7 linked regions of the Homo sapiens genome follow. The protein of the gene in region 4 purifies or fractionates together with the protein of the main gene of each other region. This does not show direct contact. Each region holds a gene or a part of one and is shown on either strand. Other genes may lie near its edges.

Region 1 (4,290 bases), on a different chromosome or scaffold from region 4:
TTTAGGGATGGAGAAAGGAGGAAGAACTGGCTATTGTCTCTAAAGGATATTGAGGTGGCCGAATAAAGGCATTTCTTTGTTTGGGAAGGGTGGGCAAACACCAACCAGAAAAATAGAAAATTAGGTGCCAAAGTGAGTGGCCTCAAAGGAATACATTGAATATAAGAGGGGGCTGGGCACAGTGGCTCACGCCGGTAATCCCAGCACTTTGGGAGGCCGAGGTGGGAGGATTGCATGCGCCCCAGAGTTCAAGACCAGCCTGGGCAACATAGACCCCGTCTGTATTTTGTTTTTTAATTAAAATTTTTTTTAAAAAGAAGAGGGAATGGAGAAGGGGCAGGAACAAGTAGGTCTAAAAGAAAGGACCCTGAAGAGACAGAGAATTGGGGAAACTGAGGCTCTGAGGAGTCCAGGCGTAAATTCTTAGGGGAAAAATCCTGGGCCAGACAGTGGGACCAAAGGGAAGAAGACAAAAGGCAAAACAATGGAGGGCTGAGAAGTGGAGACACATATAGAAGGAGACACTGGAAAAAGACAAAGCTGGGGGCAGAGGGGCTGAAATAAAGGAAAGGGCACTCGAGGACTAAGATTTGGTCACCAGCTTCTTCGTGAGAGCCCAGGCTGGGGTCAGGAATGGAAACCCTATTTCCTATCTCAGCACTGGCCATGCCAGTAAAGCTGGGTGGGGGCCAGGATGTGGGGTCACTACCTGTTGCTTCAGAACCTGCTGGTACCAGTGTGTCAGGACACCGCACCCTGAGCCAGCCCTGCTCTCGCTGGCCCAGCCCAGGGAACCAGGACGAAACCCCACGAACCTCCGAGGCTCCTGGCCACAATCAGCTTCCCTCTCTGAGCACACCTGCCTCTGTCCAGCCCCTCATCTGACTTCTGCTGCCTTGACTTCCCTCAGGGATGTGGAGCCACATCTTTCCTTATCTTTCCTTTCCTTTGCTCAAAACCCCAGGCCCAACTTACCCCGTGGTTCCTCCATGACTCTTTCACCTGCGTTCCTTCTGCCTTCCCTAGCCCCTCCAGGTCCCACGTGTTACAAACAGAGCCACATACTAGCAAGTTACTGAACCTCTCTGAGCTTTAGTTTATACATTCAGAGGGGCCAAATTTTCCCTGCCTTCCCACAGCATTACTATGAAGAAAACTAAATGAGATCATCCACCTGGAAGTTTTTTCTTCTTCTTCTTTTTTTTTTTTTTTTTTGTGAGATGGAGTTTCTTGTTGCCCAGGCTAAAGTGCAATAACACGGTCTCAGCTCACTGTAACCTCTGCCTCCTTGGTGCAAGCGATTCTCCTGCCTCAGCCTCCCAAGTAGCTGGGACCACAGGTGCCCGCCACCACACCCAGCTAATTTTTTGTATTTTTAGTAGAGAGGGGGTTTCACCATCTTGGCCAGGCTGGTCTTGAACTCCTAACCTCAGGCGATTCACCTGCCTTGGCCTCCTGAAATGTTGGGATTACAGGCACAAGCTATCATGTGCGGCCAGATGTTTTAGAAAGTGTAAAGCATTATATATTATGAATTATTACTGCCACTCATCCTGATCCCTCCACCAACAACCAGACTGCCATCCTCTGTGATGTCCCTGTTCTCTCCTCAGAAAGAAATTCTCTGCATGCACCTCCACGCCGAACCCCAGCTGTGCCAATTCCCTTCAGTCCTCTGCACGAATCCACCATGCATTGCCTCTCTCTTTCGCTATTCCCTCAGACACCAACCACCCACTAGACCATGGGAAGGTCGCAGAAATTCCTCAAGGGCTATAAGTACCCGGTGGTCAACAACACAGGTCCAGGGGTTGCCCGGCCTGGGGTTGAAATCTTGGCTTTGCTGCCTTCTAATGCATGATCTTGAGCTACTTTCCTAACTTCTCTGAGCCTCAGTGTCCTCATCTGTAGAGTGGAAATAGCAAATCTCCTTTCATACCGTTCTTGTAATGATCAAAAGTGCTAATATAGGCCGGGTGTGGTGGCTCATGCCTGTAATCCCAGCACCTTGGGAGGCTGAGGCGAGCGGATCACTTGAGTCAGGAGTTCAAGACCAGCTTGACCAAAATGGTGAAACCCTGTTTCTACTAAAAATACAAAAAAAAGAAAATTAGCCAGGTGTGGTGATGGGCACCTGTAGTCCCAGCTACTCTAGAGGCTGAGGCATGAGAGTCGCTTGAACCTGAGAGGTGGAAGTTGCAGTGAGCCGAGATTACGCCACTGCACTCCAGCCTTGGAGACAGAGTGGGACTCCATCTCACAAAAAAAAATAAAAATAAAAGTTCTAATATATAATCCAAATGTGCTTAAAACAGAGTCTAGCATATAAAAAGGCTCTAAAAATGATATTATTACTATTAAATGTCCAATCATTATCTTGTAGTGCTCCCATAATAAAAATCACCACCACCATTTATATAAACCTCTAGAATTTCCAAAGTACATATCACATACATTATTTAATTTGAGACACACAGACTAGAGTTAGGTGTCATTAACCCCACTTCAGAGTTTCAGAAACTGGGGCTCAGGAAGTTTAAGAAACTTACCTGAGGCGACCATACAGTGAGGAGCAACCCCCAGACTCAAAAGGCAGATTCCAGAGCCCCTGCCTGTCCCCTTCGCTGGGTCCTCTCCCGGAGTCTCCCTCCCGCCTCCCTCCTGTTCCCAGGGCCCCCAGCCTCCTACCTGGCAGGAGGAGACCAGCCAGCAGCAGTGCCATCATCCCGTGCCCACCCACACGCCCCATCCAGGGTGCCCGAGACGAGCCCATCTCGGACTGCACGGCCTCCTGACTGATGGCAGCTCAAGGACACCCGGGTCCTTTATGCCAGAGCTGGACATTCCCTGGGCAGGAGTCACTGTGGGGAGAGGAGGAGAGGTGGAGGGGGTGGGTGCCCCAGGGGAAGTTGGTGTGGCCGGGAGGAGCGTGGTAATCAGCCCGGTGCATCTGCCTACTCAGCAGCAGCAGTGGCTGCAGTGTGGGGTACCCATGGCCACGGGGCTCTAACGATCCTGCCACCTGACAGGCCTGGCCCCGGCTCCTCATTGCCTAACCCGGAACCAGGCGCTCTGCCCCACGGCCACCCACTCTGGGGCGGCCACTCTTGCCACGGGACCCAGCTGCCTGGCTCCTTAACTCTCCTGCCTACCGTAGCTTGGCCTGTCTCTCCATCTGCCCTCCACTCGCAGTCGTGGGTGTTTCAGCTTTTTCTTCCACACTTGGGTGCCCGCTCCAGCCCCACCCACCCAACCCCAATGAGGTCCCATTCACAGCCCCTGATCTGCTCCTTCCTTAGGACCCCATCACTCCACCTCCACTTTCCTCCTTCAAATATGAGTTCTGCCCCCATCCCCCAGGCTCCCCCTCCCACCACTCCCCAAGTACCAGGCCAGCCACATACCTATTACGTGTTCCATCACCTGGGGAACTTTCTCCTTCTCAGAAATGGGGCACCACATTCCCAAAACCAACTCCCTGACCTGTCGCTTCTGGGGGCCTCTGGGGACGGCATGGTGGCGGGGGTGGGGGGGTGCTGGGAGCCAGGGCTCAGCCAGGGGAGGGGCCTGGGCTGATGACCTCTGTCAAAGCTGGGCCTTGGTTACTCACAGGGCACTCACAGCCCCTCCCCATGGCTGGTAACCCAGACCTCAAGGGTGAGCAAGAGGCTAAGAAGGCTAATTGGGAAGGTGGTGGCCCCATAGCCCATCTGCTGGCCCTGGGCTGGATGAGCGAGCAGGAAGCAGCAGCCAGCTCTGGGCAGGTCGAGGAGGGCCAGGCAGGCTCCCGGGTCCTCAAAGGATGAAAGGAGGCCAGGAGAACCGGAGCCCTGCCATCTGCTGAGAGGGTGGTGGCTTCTCCTCCATTGCGTTGGCCTCCCTCCTGCTCTGGCCCCTGCCCCGCCCCAGCCAATTAATTGCTCACTAGTATTGCGGGAGTATCAGTATCGGAGGGAGGTGCCTGGGAGTCCAGCAAGCTGCCCTCTCCTCCCCCAGGCCTCAGACACCCCTGCTCCCCTCACCCAAACTCACTTCCCAAACCTCATCTCCTCACAAAGGCAGCTCTGTCCCTGGGCCCCTTGGCCTGGTCTCTCCCATTCCCTCTACCTCCTGACCGCCCTTTAAGTTCAGACCAGCAGGAGGATGGAAATGTTTCCTGTCTGTGCTGTCCGATACGGTAGCCACTGGCCACATGGAGCAAGTTTAACCACCAAAGATTTGGAGCTTTAATTTTAATTAATTGTAATGATGTGGTTGGCCACGTGCAGCTAGTGGCTGCCATCTAGTCTT
Region 2 (3,500 bases), on a different chromosome or scaffold from region 4:
TCATGCAAACCTAGATGGTATGGCCTACTATACAACTTGGCTACATGGTATAGCCTATTGCTCCCAAATACAAACCTGTATAGCATGTTACTGTACTGAAGACTGTAGGTAGTTGTAACACAATGGTAAATATCTGTGTATTAAATACATCTAAGAATAGAAAAGGTATAGTAAAAAACTGTATGAAAGATGAAAACTGGTAAAACAGTATAGGCACTTCCCATGAATGGCACTTGCAAGACAGGAAGTGGCACTGGGTGAGTCAGCGAGTGACTAATGAGTGTGAAGGCCTAGGATGTTACTGTACACCGCTGTAGACTTCACAAGCACTGTACACTTAGGCTACACTACATTTATAAAGAATATTTTTGTTTTCAGTAATAAGTTAACTTTGGCTTACTTTAACTTTTTTACTTTATAAACTTCTTATTTTTTAAAAACATTTTGATTCTTTTGTAACAACACTAGTCTTAAAACACAAAGACATCATACAACAGTACAATTATATTTTTTCTTTATATTCTTATCCTATGAGCTGTATTTATTTAATTTTTTAACTTTTTAAACTTTTTTGTGAATAAGTAAGACATAAACACTTTAGCCTAGGCCTACACAGAGTCAGGATTGTCAATATCACTGTCTTTTTCCTTCACGTCTTGTCCCACTGAAAGGTCTTCGGAGCATTACCACGCATGGCACCATCATATCCTATGATAACAATGCCTCCTTCTGGAATCACTCCTGAAGGGTCTGTCTGAGGCTGTTCCACAGCGAACTTTTATTTTTCGTAAGTAGAAGGAGTACACTTTAAAATAACTACTAAAAGTATACTGTTGTAAATGCATAAATCAGTAATAGTCACCATTATCAAGCATTACGTACTGTACATCATTGTATGTGTTGGGCTTTTCTACAACTGGCAGTCCAGTAGGTTGGCTTATGCCAGCATCACTACAAACACATGAGTAATGCATTTCGCTATGATATTATGATGGCTGCAACATCACTAGACAATAGTAATACCTCAGTTTCATTATAATTTGACGGTACTGCCCTCATATATGTGGTCCATCATAGACCAAAATGTCATTATGTGGACTGTGACTGTACCTCGTAAAAAGAATGTAGTAATTCATGTGAAGCCTTGCAGAGAAAGGAATCTCCCCTTCTCATTAGCCAAAATTTTTCTTAAGACAGACTGTAACTTTTTAACAACTCCCTGCAATTCTTTTTTGGTTTTTGTTTTGTTTTGTTTTGTTTTTAATAGTCCTAAAGCTACCATTGGAAAGAATTATTTAGGAATATGTGCATGGAACAAAAATATAAAATACCATGTTAAAGTGATTCAAACATACTAACATCTTTTCTGAGATAATGCTTGTGGCACCCAGGCAATAATTTTAAAATTATATAACTATCCAGAAGTCATTCTCCTTAACTTTTTGAATAAAGTTTTAATAAGTTTAAATATTTAACATCGTTCTTTGATCATTACTAATATTACTCTCTTTTGATATGAATTTGGTTGATTTTCTGATATTCCTAATTGAATCTTAGTAAACAGAAGTGTCAAATATTGAAATGATACATATCTGTTTTTATCTTTACAAAAATCCAAGAAATTGTAGATTCAACAGTAAAACTACCATGACTAAAGACACATAATGATGCTACAGGTGGAGCATCCTAATCCAAAATCCAAAATGCTCCAAATTCTGAAATTTTTGAGCATCAACATGACGCAAGTAGAAAATTCCATATGTGACCTCATGTGATGTGTCACGGTCAAAACTTTGTTTCATTAATAAAAAGATTTAAAATGTAGTATAAAATTACCTTCATGCTATATGTATAGGTTGTATATGAAACATAAATGAATTTCATGTTTATACCTGGGTCTTATCCCATCTCATGTATAAACAAACTTGCTGAAATCTAAAAAAATCCCAAATGGGAAAAAATCCAAAATCCAAAACACTTGGTCCCAGGCATTTTAGATAAGGGATATTCAACCTACAGTAAATATTTATGTGTGATAAATATTAGATAAAACTTCAAAGGGCTTGTTTATCACAATTCTTCCTCTTCTTACTTTTCTTATCTAATTCTTTGGTGTTTCTATCTGAAATACAAAGTGTGCTATACTTTCATGTTCCCTCATGTGCTTATGTAGGGAAATCAGAATTTTTCTTTCTGATAAATGGTTTATGAATTCAGATGATGGCAATGAGGAAAATCATGAGTCTATACAGTCTAAGAAATTTCAGGACATTTGGATTAAGGATTTTTTTTAAAAAAAAAGATACTATGAATCATCCTTGGGCTTCTACCTGCATATTCATGCCAAATTATGAAACTATTATTTCGTCTTAGAGAGTGGTAGAATACGTAATATATTATAGTGATTATTTTTAAATGCTTTTTGTAAAACTCAGTTGCATTTTAGAAAATACAAATTTGTACAACTTTTAAATAATATTGTAATCCAAACATAACTTTAGAAAAATATATATATGCGTGTGTGTATACGTATATATTTCATAATGTATTTCAATGGAAACGTTGAGAGAAGGAAGTCCAAACATATGGCTCTCATACATATATAATCCAAACGTGTAATCCAAACTATATATAATATATAAAATAATGCATTTCAAAGGAAATGTGTGGATGTGTGTGTGTGTATATATATATATATATATATATACACGTATGTGCCATGCTGGTGTGTGTGTGCCATGTGCCATGCTGGTGTGTGTGTGTGTGTGTGTGTGTATATATGTATATACGTATATATATACATATATACATATATATACTTATATTATATGTATATATGTATATATAAGTATATTATATATACATATATTATATATATGTGTATATATACGTATATTATATATGTGTATATATACGTATATTATATATGTGTATATATACGTATATTATATATGTGTATATATAAGTATATTATATATGTGTATATATACGTATATTATATATGTGTATATATACGTATATTATATATATATATAAAGCATTTCAATGGAAATGTCTTGTGAGAGAAGAGAGGAGTAAGTAGCTTACGAAATAGGAAAATCACTTTTTAATACTTTTATATTCAAACACTATAAGAAAGAACAGCATTATTAGATCTAAATGAAAATAAAAACACACACAAAAAAAACAAAACACAACAACAAAAAGAAACCATGAGTCTGAACCCATGACTTTGTCAGTAAATACGCTTTTCCAGCTCTTTCACTCAAATGGTGAGCAGCCTTCATGGCACTTCAACTGCATTGAACCTCAAGCACACTGATTCTTGACTTTAATCAAGTAAACATATATATTTACTCTATACTATATATTTAATAGAGTAAATGAGCCAGAGTTTCATGAGGAATAGCTGAGCTCCTTTTGGAGCTAAGATAACTCAAGACAAGCCCAGAACGTCTTGTCAGAAAGCAAAAATATTTTAAAGTTATTGGGAAGGATTG
Region 3 (3,500 bases), on a different chromosome or scaffold from region 4:
GAAATGGTATACAAACTGAACAAATAATTTAAATTGCTGCTTGAAATGAGAGCGACAGTGGCTGAGTATCTAACCTCTGCCTACTGGCTACTTGAGAACATTTCATTCTCTTGCCAATTTCCCAAAAAGGTCATTTGTGAACAGTGGAAGCCAGTCAGCCGTGACGTGGACCAGTCAGCATCTTTCTCTGAGACATACAGGGCCTTGCTAAGGCCGCATGGAGGAGGCTCGAGAACATGCCTCATGGAGGTCAGCTAGGGCCTGGGTTCAAATCCCAGCTCCTTTACTTCAGAGAGCTGGGCAACCCTGTTGAAATTTTCTTTTCCTTTTGAGACAGGATCTTGCTCTGTCTGTCACCCAGGCTAGAGTACAGTGGCTGATCATAGCTCACTGCAACCTTAAACTTCTGGGCTCAAGGGATCTTCTCACCTCTGCCTCCTGAGTAGCTGGAACTACAGGCATGCCTGGTTAATTTTTTTATTTTTTGTGGGGTCTCACTTGGTTGTCTGGGCTGCCTTGTTGAAATTGTCTAAGTTTCAGTTTCCTCACTCATAAAATGGGGATTAAATTAATACCTGATGGCCCAGGACTGAAACTCACAAAAAATGCCCAGAACACAGCAAGTGCTCAAGAAACACAAGCAGTTGAACTCCTCCCGGCCCCAGAGCTCAGCAGTGCATGCCAGTCACTCACCGGCGCATATGGGGGGCTGTACTCTCTGTACTTGCGGTGACCTTTCTCACTGGGGCTGAAATCCGAGTCATCTGAGAAGTCAGAGAAGTCATCGCTAGAAGAAGCATGGCGCTGTAATGACAGGGGAAGGAGACTCAGCAACCTGCCACAGGCAGGCCACTCGGGCACAGTCAGCCTCAGGACAAACTATGCTGGCATGTGCCGCAGGGCTCTGCGCTTCACCTGAAACACCTCACCTGGGGCACTTAGTGGCAATGAAGCATAAGCTACCAACTCTTTTAAAAAAGGTCTTTATCCAATTTGAGATAAGCAAAGGCATTAAGAGTGCCCTCTGGGGTGGACAGCAAAAGCTCAGCCCCTGGGGCTCTCAGCCAGGCCCAATGCCAGGCAGTGGCAGTCCCAGGGGATCTCCGACCTACTTTGTGCTTGGATTTCCTCCTCTTCTTCGACCTCCTTTTCTCTTTCTCCCGCTCTTTCTTCCGTTTCCGCTTCAGTCTCCTGTGGGACTTCTCCTCATCCGAATCACTGTGATGCTTCTCCCCCTTTTCTTTCCGGCTTCTCTCAGGCCCTCCGGAGGTATCCTGGGTCTCCTCTGCCCCATCATCTTCCAATTCACCTTCTTCCAACTCTCCATCTTCCCTACAAACAAACCCCAATCCCACCATGAACACAGGGTTTGAGAGGAGACCTCCTAGGGCTCTGGGCTGGCCAAGGCTGACAGGAACCGAAGGCCTGACTGCTGTGAGCGAAGTGAGACCCTGGGAGGACATGGGGGCCATGGCCTCTTGTTCCATCCCTTATCCTCCCCCTGAAAGAACTGTGCTTGCTCCAGTCTAACCTGGCTGGGGGAGGGGTAGGAGTTTAAGGGCATTACCACTAACACCGGGACACATCTACGCCAGATTTCCCAACAGAACTAGTGTTCTTAGAAGAAGAAACCGACAAGGTGCTGTGGTCACATAAGCAGGAAGAGCCCCATCTTGGGGATTCATAATGCTTAACGCTGCACAACTTCCAGGAAGCCCCATAGTCCAGAAACCCACACAGCTCTGCTGTGAAGCACTTGGGGCACTTCTAAACCTTGCTTGACCACAGAAGTCTCTCTCCCAGGGAGCACAGACCCACATCCCCTCCCTCCCAGGCCCAGGATTGCCTGCTGGGCCCCGGGCCCCAGTGAGCTGGGCGTCAGTGCCACCTGAGGCTGAGGGCGGTGGCTGTGCACCGTGGAGAGGGCCTTGGTTCTGAACCAGGGGTGGCCCCAAGCTACCTGGGACCCACCCACAGGCAGGCCTGGGCTGTGGCCTGAGAACCCTCCAAGTACTTTATTACAAAAGCCCCATGAGAACCGCTGGAAACAGGCTCAGAGTCCCAGGTCACAAGGTCTGACCCACCCTCGTCAGTCCCACACCTCTAGGCCGGAGGCAAGCAAACACTGAGCAGCTGGAGGAGGGGGGACGGATCCCAGGCCCCTCCTGAGGGCCTCACATGATACCGGCCCTGCTTTCTCTCCCTCCTCTGACTCACCTCCAGATAGTGGAACCCCTTCTGGCTCCCCATCCTACACTCTTCCAATTCCCCCGTGTCACCCCAATCTCCAGGACTTTAAAAGTGCTCTCCAAACATGACAGACACTGCCCAGTGGACATTCTGCATATGTAAATATCTATGGGGTGGGGTAGGAGTGAGGAAGAAATTGGGTTCAGGAGGGGGAGGCTGGAAAAAGAATCCAGTTTTTGAGCCAAACCCACAGACACAGTGTTCACAAGTACAGGAGTTGGTAAAGGAAAAAAACAATCTTTTTGAATAATTTTAAAAAGCTCCCAAAGTTCCCCATGAATGACCACAAAAAGGCTTGCGTGAGAGCATCCAACTCCTTCCGTCTCAATTAACTAGGACACAAAGAGAAGTGATGTAAGGAGGAAACATCACGAGCCCAGGCCCCAAAAGGTTAGCCACAAATGGAGCTATCTCTGCGGAAAGGCCCGCAGCTGCCCAAGCGGGAGCCAATGTATTAGGCGTGCTTGCCTGAAGGTTCCAGGGCATGTGGCAGACTCCTCCTCCCAGGACCCTCCACTGTCCTTTCGCTTATGTCCCTCCCTTTGTCTGCCTTGGGGCTGCTACCCAAACATCAAGGAGCGCCTCAAGAGCAGCTTTTTCTATGAACTCTCACTCCCAGTTCAAAGGGGATGGGTTCTATTTCAAACCCAAGTGGCCCAGCCCCACAGATACCCCTGGGCAGAGGTCAAGGGCAACTCTCAAAACAGAATGCAGGACACAAAACTCTTTCTGCTGCTTCAAAGTCAACAACACAGGTGACCTGACCCATGTGCACCTTGTGTTGCTTCCCCGACTAGCAAACTTGGAATGGGGCGGGGGTGCAGGCTGCAGTCCTGACAAGGGAGGTGCCTTCCCGCTGGGGTGCGGCCCACAGAAACCAGGCGTGGAGCAAAGTCCTCACTGGACACCTCACCCACACCGAAAAGGGCCACATGACTGGGAAAACTGGTTTTGTCCCAAGGGAGAAGCTGTTACTCAGTGACATGGCAAACTGCCCGCCGCCAGGAGCTGTGCAGACACTGGGAGGTGGCACCCTGATGGGAATACTGGGGGCAGGCCAGGGCCACACCTCAAGAGAAAGGGAGAGACGGACAGACTGAGCGGGAGAAGGCCCGGGACAGACTGGAGGTATACATGCTGGGGTTCCATAAAGAAAAGCTAAGAACAACATTACTCTCGACACTTAAGTCTAGAAGGGATAAAGCTGAGAGGGACATGATCACCACCCAGGCCACTAATATTTTAAATGC
Region 4 (3,524 bases):
TCTGGACTTTGGTTTCCTAACTCGTGAGATGACAATAGTAGTTTCTTTCTAATTTGGCTGTTTTTAGGTATAAACGAAAAGAATATATAGGTAAAGTGCTTAGTACAACCGTCTGGGAAATAGCAAAGTCCCCATAATGCCAGCTGCCGTTACTGTTATGTCTAGTATCGAACTTCTCCTGGAAATCAGCCACCTCTCTCCTTGAGCCCTGTCCAGGGCCAGTGGGTTTTTGGTAGTGTAGAGGGGCAACTCCTATCTTGCAAGGAACGGCAAGAGGTCGGGGCAAGCAGCTCTCTCTGGTCACTTCTTCAAGGGGGTGGTTGCTGAGGCTTTGGAAGGGAATTTAGTGAGCTCAGACCCTCTCAAGGCTACTGTGCTCCAAGTATGTGGCAGTTCATTTCAAGCTTGATGGCACACTCTTTGCAGAGCAGTTGCCAAGGAACGAGGTAATCTTGTGACAGAAATACTGCCTGATGCTGTCAGTTTGATGGTCGAAAAGGTTTTAGGTGGTATCAAATTTTATTACTAGCATTCCTGGTCTCCATGAAAGAACCACATAAGAAGACAAGTTATGTCAAAGGACAAAACCACAGACCTAGATGGGCACCGTGCATACAGCAGACACTTGGTTTCCTTTTGATATTGACTCAAACAGGGACTGGATTAAAAAAAGAAGAAAATAACAACAAGACCACAGACTTAAGCTGATCAGTGGTCTAACACTGGCAAGATTACTTTTGTTGATAAATTGATTTCTTGGGAAATCCTGGGAAAGTTCCTGGACGTGACCCTGTGGTCCTACCACCACTAGCTACCTGTGACCTTGGGTGAGTCAGCAAGTGGATGCAAAGGGAACACACACAGCACGGTGCCACAGCGGGCACCACCTGCCCCCCGCCGTCACAGATGGCTTGCAAATAAGCTACTCACGTACTTCCTGAGATCTGCTGCACCCAAACACACCAAGCTCAGAGAGGCTTTTGAGGCAGACAAGGGCAGGGAGAGAGGATGGTTCTTCTCGCATGGGTATTTAAGGAGTGTAGTGTCATGCGTGAGTGACTTTTTGGTTAGTAAGTTCTGCTGATTACATGAAGCAATGGGATAACTATCACGGCCAAAAGAGTATTCCTACTGCAGGCTCAGTAAGACTTTCTAATGATATTGAAGTAGTAGTTCCCTGAAAAGAGCTACTATGATCACATGGCTTGGTTAACTGTTTCTTACAAGTCTGAGCATGAATTTAACACACACGAACTATACACTGACAAAGACAGGATGCTCCTGAAATAAAATCACAGCATCTTATTGCATATACTACATCATCCAAGGTCAAAACCCTTTCATAGAGACATTTAAAACTATAACCAAGTAAAAGAGAAAATAGATGCAAATTTGCTTTTACAAAATTTGAAAATCAACCAAAAGAGTAAGGCACAAGATGCAGTCAGCTACAAAGCACTTCAGAGAACAGCGCTTTGCTCTCAGGTCTGGGACCCACCCCCTGGGCAAGGCCGCCTGGCAGCAGGCAGGAACCAAACCCCTGCCACCTCCACTCACTCCCAGGGTTCCTCTTTGCAGGATGGTGGGGAGCGCAGGCACCAAGGCAGGAAGGCCAGGGCAGGAAGATGCCCCGCGTCCTTCACTTTCCCTCAGTGTGAGCACACCAAGTTCCCTCTAACCAGGAGAACAGGACCCTAGGCACCAAAAGTCAAGCATGAGGGACTGCCACAGGCAGTCTGGCAGGTGTCTTTCAGATGCTAAAGTGCCAGGGTTTGCAGGATACTTGGATGGTTTACAGTGATGATGAGTTGGAGTCTTTAAACTCAATGGTGTCCTAGATACTCAGTTAGGATGATAGTGATCCCATCCATCCCGTGGTTGGTCACTGAGCTGCGTACGAAGCTGGCCTAGAATCAGACCCCGCATCCATAGGGAGAAATCATCACCCTCTACCGGGATCTGGATTTGTTTTCAGGATCTATTCTCATGAAGGAGACTTGAGAAGCTGAGAAACTCCAGAAGAATTTAAGTTTCAAAGTCAGATGAGTTTGCTACTCAACCTTCATCATGGTTGTAGCTTTCGCTCCCAGAATACAAGGCCAGAGAGGCACCAACCAGGAGGCAAACTTCACCTTCAAGGCCAGGCAACGCCTGGCTACAGTTAGACCCCGCAGCAGGGTTAAAGAAGGCTACAGTTAGACCCCGCAGCAGGGTTAAAGAAGGCTACAGTTAGACCCCGCAGCAGGGTTAGAGAAGTCTCTCCAGCAAGGCTGGGAGTTCAGCTTCCAATAGATCTAGAGGGCCAGGAGAAAAAGCATGCTGAGTGCCTGGCGGCATCTAGTGGTCACTAGTGGTCACTGCCAGTCATCAGCTTTCCTCCAATAAACCAGTTATCATGAGAATATAAAACAATCAGGAAGAAAAAAAAGTGTAGCTTTTTTTTTTTTTTTTTTTTTTTTTGAGACAAGAGTTTCGCTCTGTTGCCCAGGATAGAGTGCAGTGGCAGTGATCTTGGCTCACTGTAAGCTCCACCTCCCGGGTTCACGCCATTCTCCTGCCTCAGCCTCCCGAGTAGCTGGGACTACAGGCGCCTGCCACCATGCCCGGCTAATTTTTTGTATTTTTAGTAGAGACGGGGTTTCACCGTGTTAGCCTGGATGGTCTTGATCTCCTGACCTCGTGATCTGCCTGCCTCGGCCTCCCAAAGTGCTGGGATTACAGGCGTGAGCCACCGCGCCCGGCCAAAAGTTTAGTATTTTATCAAAGAAAACCATGACATACTAAATAGTCCTGAAACAAAAACGATTTACACATTTTCTTCTGACTAGGTATTTATTAAGTTCTAAAACCTTGAATAACTGCTATTTTAAAAATTCACACTAAAAGAAAACTAGAAATGTTAACATCTTTTACAGAGGGCAGTAAGTGGCCTTTTTTTTTTTTTTAAATTATAATTGCCTAGGAGAAAGGTGAGCTAATCTCTTTGGAAGTGTCATCAGCTGGTGAACTTCATCTTGGTCTCCACTTTATGTCTTTCACTCCATGAAAATGTCTTTTCAAAGCAGTGTTATCCGCCCATGGTGAGTTTAAATAGGCATCATCATCATTTTCTTCCAATCTCTGGAAATAAGTATGTTTTATTCAGGCAGGCATTTCAGGAAAGTGTTTTGCACATAAAGAGACTGAAGAAAGAGTCCATGACTGACCTCCCCCTCTCCCTGCCCTCTAGGAGCAGGATACTGCCATGTCTAACACCAGGGGACACCTGGCAGGACCCCGACAGACCTGCAGACAGAAGCTCTAGAAAGACCCCTCCCCGGCATTCTGCAGAGCTCACTGCTCCCCAGCAGCCCCAGGTAAGGCACACAGGCTATGTGTGGGCGCCAGCACTGCAGAAAGCCCATCTGTCCCCTGCTACCTTGAGCTCCTCTTGTCTTCTGTGATAGTACAGCATCAGCTGCTTCTGCTCCTCACTGCTAATAATAGGCTCTCGGGCTGGAGCTCCCTGTCCCCTCTGCAAAGAG
Region 5 (4,186 bases), on a different chromosome or scaffold from region 4:
AATCAATTGTATTTCTATATAACAGCAATAAACACTTAGAAAATGAAATAAGAAAAGATGCTATTTACAAAAGCATAAAAAAATCAGAAAAATTTTAGGAATAAATCTAATTAAAGATATGAAATGGCTGTACTCAGAATATTATAAAAGTTGAGATTATAAGTGCTGAGAAAATGAAATAGGAAAGGAGGCTATTCATAAAAGCATAAAAAAAGAGGAAATTTTTAGGAATAAATCTAAGAAAACATGAAAGAGCTATACTCAGAAAATTATAAATATTGAGATAAAGATTTAAATAAATGGACAATATATAGCTTGTTTATGAACTGAAAGTCTAAATAGCATTAAGATATCAAATCTCCTTAAATTCATTTATAGATGCAATGAAATCCCATTCTGAATATCTGAAGTTTTTTTAAAAAATAAAGATTAATAAGGTGATTTCTAAAATTTATATGAAAATGTAGAGGGCTAAGATTAGGTAAGACCATCTTTAAGAAGACTAAGTTGGAAGACATACCAGATAGCAAGGTGTGTTATAAAGGAAGAAAATATGGCATGATGCAAGGCTAAACAAATGGAATGATAAAAGATAATAGTATAAAGTCAGTCTTATATCACTCTGGACATTTGGTTAATGGCAAAGATGGTAGTGTAGGTCAGTAGAGAAAGAATAGTCTTGAATAAATGGTGCTGGGTTAATTGAATTTTCAAATGGAAAAAAAATAGTTTCCAGGTTGATTTTACATGTAAGAGATAAACGAAGATAACATTGGAGAATATCTTCAGGACCTCGGGGTGGGGAAATACTTAAATAAAATTCAAAAAGTACTAATTAATAAGAAAAAGACTGATAAATTGTACTGCATTAAAAGTAGGAATGTTTATTCTTTTAAAGATAGCATTAGAAGAGAGATGTACAAGCCACACAGTGGGAGGATATACAAAACACATTTAACCAATAAAGGAATCTGTCCTGAATATAAAAATAGCTTCTATAAATCAATAAAAAATACAGTTAACTCAATGGAAAAATGAATACCTTAGGAACGTTACAGAAAAGGATATCCAAATGGCCAATAAACATATCAAAACTTCTCAACCTTGTTATGCACTAGGGAAATGCAAATTGAAATAACGTGTGAGACCTCAATACACCCACCAAAGTGACTAAAAAGATAAGAAAGAAAAAAATCCTTGACAATACCAAATATTGGTGAGAATGTGGAGAATTGAGATTTTTTTTTTTTTTATGTACTGCTGGAGGCACATAAAGTGACAGAAGCACTTTGGAAAATTGTTTGACAGTATCTAAGTCCTAGCGATTTACTCTTAGGAATATTCCCAACTGAAATATGTACATATGTGTAACCAAAAGTAGTACACAAAAAAGTGCATAGCCCTATTATTTATAATACCCCCCAAAATGGAAGAGACCCAAGTATCTACCCATAGACAAATGGATGAATAAATTGTTATATTTTCAGATAACATAATAGTCAGTGTTGGGAGATGAAGGTAGACTGGACTAGGATGATAATGGCAGAGAGGGGGATAAATGGATAGATTTGGCAGGTTTGTAGGCAGAGTTGACTGGACGTGGTGATGAATCAGTGTGATGAGAAAACAGGAATCATGGATAACTTCTAGATTTTGGTATGAGCAAACAGTTATTTCTCGTTATTTCTATTATTTCCATCATCTTTCACATAAAAGAATGCAGTCTCTCCCTGCTCCTGCTCTTGCCTTCCTATATTCCTGTTTTCCACGTAGCAGCCCAGAGTGGTCTTTTAAAAACATAGATTATCTTACTCCTCCTGCTTAATACCCCTTTAAGTACATGCTAAAATCTAACATGTACTGTTTTAATTCTACTGTGCCCCTCTTTACATGAGCTACGCTGTCTAGCTCTCTGACATCACCATATACCACTGGTCCTCTTTTTAACTATGTATGCTCTAAGGCACACTAGCTTCTTTTTGCTCTTTGGGACAAGTTTACTCTTGCTTAGAATCTTGCCCTTTGCCTTGGCTAGTTTCTTTTGTGTTTAAGATCTCAACTCAAAGATAATTCCCTAGAGAGGTCTTCCCCTGGCCATCTAATTTAAAGCACTTTCCTCCTCCCTCCCATCACTTTACTACAAGCTTGTCCAATCTGTGGCCCAGGACAGCTTTGAATGTGGCCCAACACAAATTTGTAAACTTTCTTAAAACATTACGAGTTTTTTTTTAAGCTTATCAGCTATTATTAGTGTCAGTGTGTTTTATGTGTGGCCCAAGACAATTCTTTTTCCATTATGACCCAGGGAAGCCAAAAGACGGGACACCCCTGCTCTACTACATCACTCTTTTATTTTCTTCATTGTTCTTATCACTATTTAAAATTATCTTATTTGTTTATTGTTGTTTACTAAATGTTTCCCCCTATTAAAGGTAAGCTGCTAGGAGTTTATATAGTTCACTGCTGCATAGATAGAGCCAAGACCAAGTAGAAGGTAGTTAATACATATTTGTTAAGTAAATGAATAAATGGACAATCTAACAATACAGAGTATTGAGTAGCTCCATGGAAAGCAAATTTATGCCCTCATTTTCCTTCTATATAGAAATAAACCTTTTAGTGACAGTGCCACTAAAAAGAAAGAGAAAAACCCTAAACTTCCAGAACCTTTTGCCTTACAGTACACATACATTCAGATTTCCACCTTGGTTAATAGTAAGTAGACAAAATTAAATGTATTCCTTCTTACCTTGTTCACCAAAAGAGCAAATAGAATGTAGCCTGAAGGAGCCTGCTGGGTACTGAAGGCTGAGATAATGGCCCTTTTATAGCAGGCCCCATGCAGGGAGGAGCCACCCTCTGTGGGATGGTCTGATTCATTCCTAACCAAACCTAGATCCACCCATATCTCCACCTCTATTTCTCCAGCAACCTGTGTTTACTTCCCAGCTTCCTCACGTACTCATCTGTACTTGTTTCAGCAAGTTCCAAATTTGGGTTTACATATTGGAAATTTTATGGAAGGGTCCCTTTGGCTAATACAGGTTGTTTGTGTGCAGGGCCCATACCTACTTTTCTGTAACCCCACTTTGGCTTGACAGGTGCTTGGTAAATATCTATTGATAAATACACTTCCTGATCCTTGTCTCTAGAAGAGTAGGACATATTAATACGTTTATAAGAACTTGAAATTCAATTTATGATAGGAAAACATCACAAGCATCTACATATATGTTCTTTTTTAATCTATGTATTCCATCTTTGGGTACTGAAGAACTTGCCATGAGATGAATGCCGTCTTCTAGAAATTATGGTCAGTAGAGGATAGGCAAATTTAATTTTAATTTTTCAAAGCAGAGCAAGAATGTGAACAATTGAACTAGAAGTGGTGATCACTAGGAGCATGAGTTTAATTAGGCAAGACTCATTAGTGTAATTTTACTTTGTTTTCAAGGTTATTACATCGTGGCATCAGAGACATGTTCCACATACTCTTCCTTCTTAAACCATGAATTTTCTTTTATTGCCATAAATATACAGGGGACTCCTATCCCTGGTCTGTCTTATGATATACACACTGTTATGTTGAGCAGATTGCATCTCCATATGGATGTCCCATGGTTATCTCAATCCATAGTGTTGAAAACTGAACTTACATTGTGCCTCCTACCAAAATGTACTATCCTCCAGAAGCCCATATATTGGTAATGATGCCCCCACACACTGGGTGTCTCAAGCTAGACAAAGTCATTTTCATTTCTCCTTTTCCTTAACCCCTCATGCTCATGTCACATCGTATCAATTATACTCAGGCTTAGATTTTGTTATGTAGGCCTATTCTCTACCTCCAGTGCTATAATTTTAGTTCTGGACCTGACCATCTTTCAATTGGGTATTGGTAAAGAAAAAAAAGTGTCGTAACTAGCCTCTCTCTCTACTATTAAGCTGGCTTACCATCTTATGTCATTCGCTGTGCTGGTTTCTTCTTGCCTGCAGAATTTCAGACTTTTTTACCTGACGTACAAGCCCCTTTACAATAGGCATGAATCTGTATCTTTTCAATTGTCCCTCTTATTACCTGTATCTCATGGAAAAGTCACTCTAGAATGAGCAATATTTCTTGGACGAGCCCATATTGGTCCACTACTGTTCAAAATCTTTGCGTGCTATCCTCCACTACCTTGAC
Region 6 (2,794 bases), on a different chromosome or scaffold from region 4:
GCCTCCCGGGTTCACGCCATTCTCCTGCCTCAGCCTCCCGAGTAGCTGGGACTACAGGCGCCCACCACTACGCCCAGCTAATTTTTTGTATTTTTAGTAGAGACGGGGTTTCACCGTTTTAGCCGGGATGGTCTCGATCTCCTTACCTCGTGATCCGCCCGCCTCGGCCTCCCAAAGTGCTGGGATTACAGGCGTGAGCCACCGCGCCCGGCCTAAGCACATTTTTTTAAATGCTGAACATAATTAGGCATTAGGGAAATGCAACCAAAAGCCGGTACACGCTGAAAGTAACAACACTGGTAGTACCAAGTATTGGTGAGAAGAGAGAAAAACCAGAACTCTCCTAGGCTTTACTGGGAATGTTAAATGATACAACCACTTTCAAAGGCAATTTGGCAGATCCTTAAAAAGTTAAACTTACACCTTCCATATGACCCAGCCATTCTACTTCTATGTATCTATATACAAAAGAAATGAAGACATATGTCCATACAAAGATGTATATATATAAATATTCATAAAAACTTTATTTTCAATAGCAAAAATCTTGGTAACAACGTAAATGTTCATCAACAGGTAAATTTGTTCATCAACAAATCATGGTATACCTATACAAAAAAATGTTACTTACCAATAAAAGGGATGAACTATTGATACATACAATAACATAAATGAATCTCAAAATAATTGTACTGAGTGACAGGAGTCATACTACAAAGCATAGATGATGTATGGTTCCATGTATGTAAATTTCTTTAAAAATGCAAATTAATCTATAGTGACAGAAAGAAGATTGGTAGTTGCCTGAGCAGATCAGTGGTTGGGATGGGACGGGGAGAGGGAGAAGGAAGAGTGAGAAATTACAAAGATGCAAGAAGGAATTTGGGAGTATGATAGATAGGTTCATTATCTTGAATATAGCGATGGTTTGTTTCATGGAAAATGTGTCAGAACTTATTGTAGAGGTTAAATATGTGAAATGTATTCTGTGTCAATTAAAGTGTTCTTCAAATTAGAGGTGGAAGTGAGAACAAAACTCACAGATGTATACCTTTCAGTCCTGTGGATTAATTTTGCCCAAACCTGCTTTGGAAAACATGATCCCTAAATGAATGTGGCCTAACAGATATATCCTGGCTTGGTCAAATTTAAGTAAGAGCTGTAATATGAATGGTTCATGTAACTGTTAACTGTCAGTCAAAAACAGAGTCAGGATTAACCACTGTTCAGTCCAACTCATTAAAGAAATAATAAAGCAGGCAGCAGTCAGTGGTGGTATAAACAGTGACATAAGTGAGAGTACAAACCAGTGTAACTTTCTAGGGACCAATTTGGAAGAAGTCTCAAAATGTGCTCAACTTTTATCTCAACAGTACTATTGTTAGGAATTTTAAAAAATATATTAAGGATGTGAGCAAATATTTAGTATATCCAAAACAGCATAATATATATTATTAGCAATCTATTATTTGTTAATAGAAATAATTTTAATTACTCAAACTGTCTAAAATTAGATTCAATTATAGAAATCCAGCCACACAGTGGAATACTATGCACATCAAATTGATGACCTGGAAAGATCTTAAGGGAGGTTTTTCATAAGGGAAGAAATAAGCTACTGAAGGATATGATTAACTTGTAGTAAAATGCTTATAAATTTCTATTTGCATACACATAATAGGGAAGGATGTATATCACTATTAACAGCAGTGATTGCTGTGTGTTGGAATTGTGGGTGACTTCAATTTTTTTGGAGACTTTGCTGTAGTTTCCAAATTGCTGCCACAACGCAATTTTATTTTTAGGCAGAAAAAAATTAATGTATATGGAGGTTCTTTCTTAACTAAGGGGTGTGCTTGAGCTGTGTCTGAGCACATATGATTAGTTAGAGGACTCAGTGGTGTGTTGCGTAAGTTCCTTTGGTATTTTGTGTGTTTCAGAGGGAAAAGGAATGGAAAGAACAGCATAGCAAGCTTCAGATATTTGCCTCCTAGCTCAGTCCTAAAGTGCATTGCTGAGTCCCTGAACTTGTATCTCAGGCTTATGGAAAGATGAGAAGGAGCTGTCTTCATTACAAACTGTGTGAGACAGGGGGCATGCAGGGCTGTCTATGTGACAGTGACAGAAGCAGATCACTATTTCAGCTGCACATGAGACACAGGGTGGCTGCAGCTTTACTCTATAGGGTTTGCCCTTGGCTTTGTGTGCAGTGTCACCTGGGCACTAGTCCCCTGTTCAGCCTGGCAGTGGTGGTGGGCAGAGCCGGGCGGATGGAAGAGGGCTGGCTCCTGAAGCCCTGAGATGCTCCATAAGATCCCCTGAAACAATGGGCACAGACTTAGGTGAAGGCAGAGGCAATGGCAGGCACCCCAAACACTCCAAAACCAGCATAGCCTTCCCAGGCCCAAATTTCATGCATCTGCGGCCTCAGTTATTCTCAATGGCTCTGGAACTTTCAGCAAAGACTTTCACACACTATCCAGTGCACACGCTTTATTTTGGCATTCAAGCCACTGCACCAACTAGGTCACAGGGAATGTTAATTAAGGCAAGATAGGTAGAAGGAAAGGAGGGTATGTACAGCAATTGCTCCTCTTTACGGAGAAGAGAACCTGCCACAGAACAAGATGCAGTTGGTTTTGTGGTGCCTGATGAAGAAAAGAAAAGGGTGGTCTGCACAGAATCTTGGCTCCATTCTGCTGCACCGGGAATTCCTGACCACAGCAGTGGCTGCGGCAGCCTCTGTGCCTTCCTCATTGACCTCCACGAAGCACTTGTGGGCAACCTTGGACAG
Region 7 (3,189 bases), on a different chromosome or scaffold from region 4:
AGCCGCGTCAGCAGTTCCCCACTCTGTTGCAAAGAGACTAGATCACTGCATCCGCCTATACAATCTTTACCAATAAAGACTCGAGGCACCTAAAAAAGCACACGACCCAGGACATTACTACATTACTAGATTAGACAGAACATTTCTATCCTACCACTAAATATTTCCCGTGATTCCAAACTTTTCAAATCACTTTAAAACCTCCTTATGTATATGCTCACAGGACAGGACTTCCTTTCTGTTATAAGGGGTAACATTATTAACTCGAGAATGTTTTTACGCCAGAAGAGTTTTCAAGTTGTGTGCTATGCATGAGCTTGTCCAACTTGTCAAAGGGATTTAAAAATTTCACTCTACAGAAACATGTTTCAGAAGGAGAATTCTGATTGGCTGCAGTCAGACCACCTAGATTGAACTCTGCTTTCTCTGCATCAGGGACCACACCTAAGATTGTAAACTGGGTCACAGCAATCAGGAAGGAAGGAGTTCGTTTCTAAATACAGCTGGAAAAGTATTTGCATTACGTCTCTGATTTTTCAGGTCCATGGTTTATTAAGTACAATCATCTCTCTGTGTTGTTAAAACACAGGTGAGGGCCAGGCACAGTGGCTCATGAATGTAATCCTACTACTTTTGTGAGGCTGAGGTGGGAGGGTCGCTTGAGCCCAGGAGTTCAAGACTAGCCTAGGTAACATCGTGAGACCCCGTCTCTACAAAAAATACAAAAATTAGCCAGGCATGGCGGTGCATGCCTGTAGTCCCAGCTACTCAGGAGGCTGAAGTGGAAGGATTGCTTTGGCCCGGGAGGTCGAGGCTGCAGTAAGCTGTGATGGTGCCATTGCACTCACACCTGGACGACAGAGCAAAACAAAGAAAGCAAAACAAAGCAACACAAGTGAGCTCTGTCCTCAACCAGGGGGGTGTAGTGGTGTTTGAGTCTCCTTTAATCGCTGGTCCATCATAAGATGGTTAACTCACCCCGGATGAGGGTGCGTCACCCACGCCAAGCCACAGTCATGACACCTGCTGAATAGGCTCCTCTCTAGTTACACACTTCCTCCCTGCTGCTAGGAGCAGACACATTCCAGAATTCCAGAGGGCTTTTAGAATCGCGAGGGAGGAGGAAATACCCTCAACGTGGCTGAATTTATAGGCCAGGAGTGTTCCACCAAGGCTGCCTGGCAGTGAAGAAAAAAGCCCCATGGAGGTCACCGCGTCATCAGAGCCAGCGGGCCTCTCCCCGAGTACCAGGAACGCACTGGAGGGGAGGGAGAGGTGGAGGCAGAAAGCAATGAGACTATTTTTCAAAGCTTTGGGCTTTCCTCAGAAAGCATAATAATTGGAGCAAATTGTCCAAAAAGTGAGAAAGGTGAGAAAAGGGGCTTCATTATTGTGGATAAGTTCTTACAGCACTTTTATTAAAAAGGGGGTCTGGGTGAAGGTAGGCATTAAAAATAAAGTCTAAAAATTAAAAACAAATCTTGCACATTTCCATGGCTATTCCCTGTGCTCTCACAGGATAACTGAGGCTTTGAAAACCCACAGCCCTGGAGCTGCCCCCCAGCCTCCTGAGATGACCCTGAAATGTGACCAGGCTGCTCCCAGCGTGGAGTTTTGTGCTCAGTGTCTGGCAAAGAAGCGAAAGGCTCCTTTACCCTCACACCCATCCTCTAGTCTGGACAACTGCAAAACTGCCATAAATCGTATCAGTGAATGGTACCCCTAACGGGAGCTGAATGGCAGGCTGTACAGACGGCACGGGGGTGCTGTGGCAGTGAAACCAAAGCAAGAAGTACTGTTGATAAAGTTGAGCAAAGAAGAGGAAATACCCTGTGCTGCTTCCCCTCCTGTCCCTTCCCGTCCCAGCCTCCTCTTTAGAGGAACTTGAGAGTCCGCTACTGTCAAGGAGAGGAAAGAACTGCCACCCCAAAACGAGTTTGGTAATCCTGTGGTTCTTATTCTCCTGCACTAGGTTTCCCCAGCCTCAGCCAGGCAACATCTCCTGTACGCTAGCTAGGGTTACACAAATGCAACTACTCAAAAGCAATTTCTCAACACTCCTCGGCTACCTCCCTGGTATAAGCCACCTTCATCTGTCACCTGAATAACTACTATAGCCTCCCAATGTCTCCCAGCTTCAACCTTCACCTTTGCCCTACTGTCTCTTCTCCCCACAGCTGCCAGAGTGGCCCTTTCAAAATGGGGTCAGATCAAGTGACTCGTCTGCTCAGCACCCACCAGGGGCATCTCATCTCACACCGAGTACCAGTCACAGTTCTTCCAAGCTCCTATTAGCTCTCAGACCTCACCTCCACTAACTCTCCTACTGGCTCACAGTGCTGCAACTATACTGGCTTCCTTACTATTCCACAAACCTGCCAGGCAAACGTCTACCCCAGGACCTTTGCATTCACTCTACCTGTAAATTGTGTACACCCATCTCCCTCAGCTCCTATAGATATCTGCTCGAATGTTCCCTTCTCAGTGAGACCCAATGGCTCCATTTAAAACTGGACCCTGATGCTTCCTCCCTACCTTTCCTACTTTTCCTCATAGCACGTGCCACTTACCAACTCCCAACATACTGTTTTATTACTGTATTTGTTTGTCTCCCCCACTAGAATATAGGTTCAACAAAGGCAGAAGGGTTTTTTTCATGGCAGAAAAGGCAGAATTTTTTCCCCAATGTACATAAAAGTGTCTGGTACATAGTAGGTGCTTAAAAATATTTGTTGCATCCAGTAAAATCATCATTCAAATGCGAAGGAGAAATACTTTCTAAGGTAAACAAAACTTGAGGGAATGTGTTACCAATGGAATCACCTTGCAAGAAATGCCCAAAGAAGTTCTTCAGAGAGAAGGGAAATGATATAGTTCAGAAACTCAGATCTATGTAAAGAAAAGTGCATTAGAGGAGAAATAAATGAAGGCACTAATTTAGGAGCTGTGACTATAGCAAAACAAAAACAGGTTTTACCAAGTACATGGCTTGATTGAAGCCACTAACTTTCCATAATCATGTCCTGCTGATTACCTACTAGATACAGCTACTTTATAGAATAATTAAGACTGCAGGATCAGGCCGGGCGCCGTGGCTCACGCCTGTAATCCCAGCACTTTGGGAGGCTGAGGCGGGTGGATCACGAGGTCAGGAGATTGAGACCATCCTGGCTAACACAGTGAAAACCC

Evidence for each region.
Region 1: the proteins of CFAP298 (region 4) and CDSN purify together in Homo sapiens (affinity purification with mass spectrometry; 3 studies listed by BioGRID and IntAct, with this or other methods). This does not show direct contact.
Region 2: the proteins of CFAP298 (region 4) and SERPINB7 purify together in Homo sapiens (affinity purification with mass spectrometry; 2 studies listed by BioGRID and IntAct, with this or other methods). This does not show direct contact.
Region 3: the proteins of CFAP298 (region 4) and ZC3H4 purify together in Homo sapiens (affinity purification with mass spectrometry; one large-scale study listed by BioGRID and IntAct). This does not show direct contact.
Region 5: the proteins of CFAP298 (region 4) and FLG purify together in Homo sapiens (affinity purification with mass spectrometry; 3 studies listed by BioGRID and IntAct, with this or other methods). This does not show direct contact.
Region 6: the proteins of CFAP298 (region 4) and SERPINB8 purify together in Homo sapiens (affinity purification with mass spectrometry; 3 studies listed by BioGRID and IntAct, with this or other methods). This does not show direct contact.
Region 7: the proteins of CFAP298 (region 4) and GLRX purify together in Homo sapiens (affinity purification with mass spectrometry; 3 studies listed by BioGRID and IntAct, with this or other methods). This does not show direct contact.

Annotation. Positions count from the first base shown.
Region 1 is NC_000006.12:31,117,647-31,121,936, forward strand, and holds the start of CDSN (corneodesmosin precursor), read right to left. Parts: upstream 2,801-4,290; 5' UTR 2,774-2,800; coding exon 2,689-2,773; intron 1-2,688. UniProt on the Homo sapiens protein: Important for the epidermal barrier integrity.
Region 2 is NC_000018.10:63,785,418-63,788,917, reverse strand, and holds part of SERPINB7 (serpin B7), read right to left. Parts: intron 1-3,500. UniProt on the Homo sapiens protein: Might function as an inhibitor of Lys-specific proteases. Might influence the maturation of megakaryocytes via its action as a serpin.
Region 3 is NC_000019.10:47,093,277-47,096,776, forward strand, and holds part of ZC3H4 (zinc finger CCCH domain-containing protein 4), read right to left. Parts: intron 1,333-3,500; coding exon 1,113-1,332; intron 805-1,112; coding exon 694-804; intron 1-693. UniProt on the Homo sapiens protein: RNA-binding protein that suppresses transcription of long non-coding RNAs (lncRNAs). LncRNAs are defined as transcripts more than 200 nucleotides that are not translated into protein.
Region 4 is NC_000021.9:32,598,854-32,602,377, forward strand, and holds the end of CFAP298 (cilia- and flagella-associated protein 298), read right to left. Parts: exon of another isoform or gene 3,515-3,524; coding exon 3,419-3,514; coding exon of another isoform or gene 3,371-3,418; exon of another isoform or gene 3,121-3,370; coding exon 3,010-3,120; 3' UTR 501-3,009; downstream 1-500. UniProt on the Homo sapiens protein: Plays a role in motile cilium function, possibly by acting on outer dynein arm assembly. Seems to be important for initiation rather than maintenance of cilium motility.
Region 5 is NC_000001.11:152,322,440-152,326,625, forward strand, and holds the start of FLG (filaggrin), read right to left. Parts: upstream 2,801-4,186; 5' UTR 2,750-2,800; intron 1-2,749.
Region 6 is NC_000018.10:63,987,081-63,989,874, reverse strand, and holds the end of SERPINB8 (serpin B8), read right to left. Parts: coding exon 2,597-2,794; 3' UTR 501-2,596; downstream 1-500. UniProt on the Homo sapiens protein: Has an important role in epithelial desmosome-mediated cell-cell adhesion.
Region 7 is NC_000005.10:95,816,538-95,819,726, forward strand, and holds part of GLRX (glutaredoxin-1), read right to left. Parts: intron 90-3,189; coding exon 1-89. UniProt on the Homo sapiens protein: Has a glutathione-disulfide oxidoreductase activity in the presence of NADPH and glutathione reductase. Reduces low molecular weight disulfides and proteins.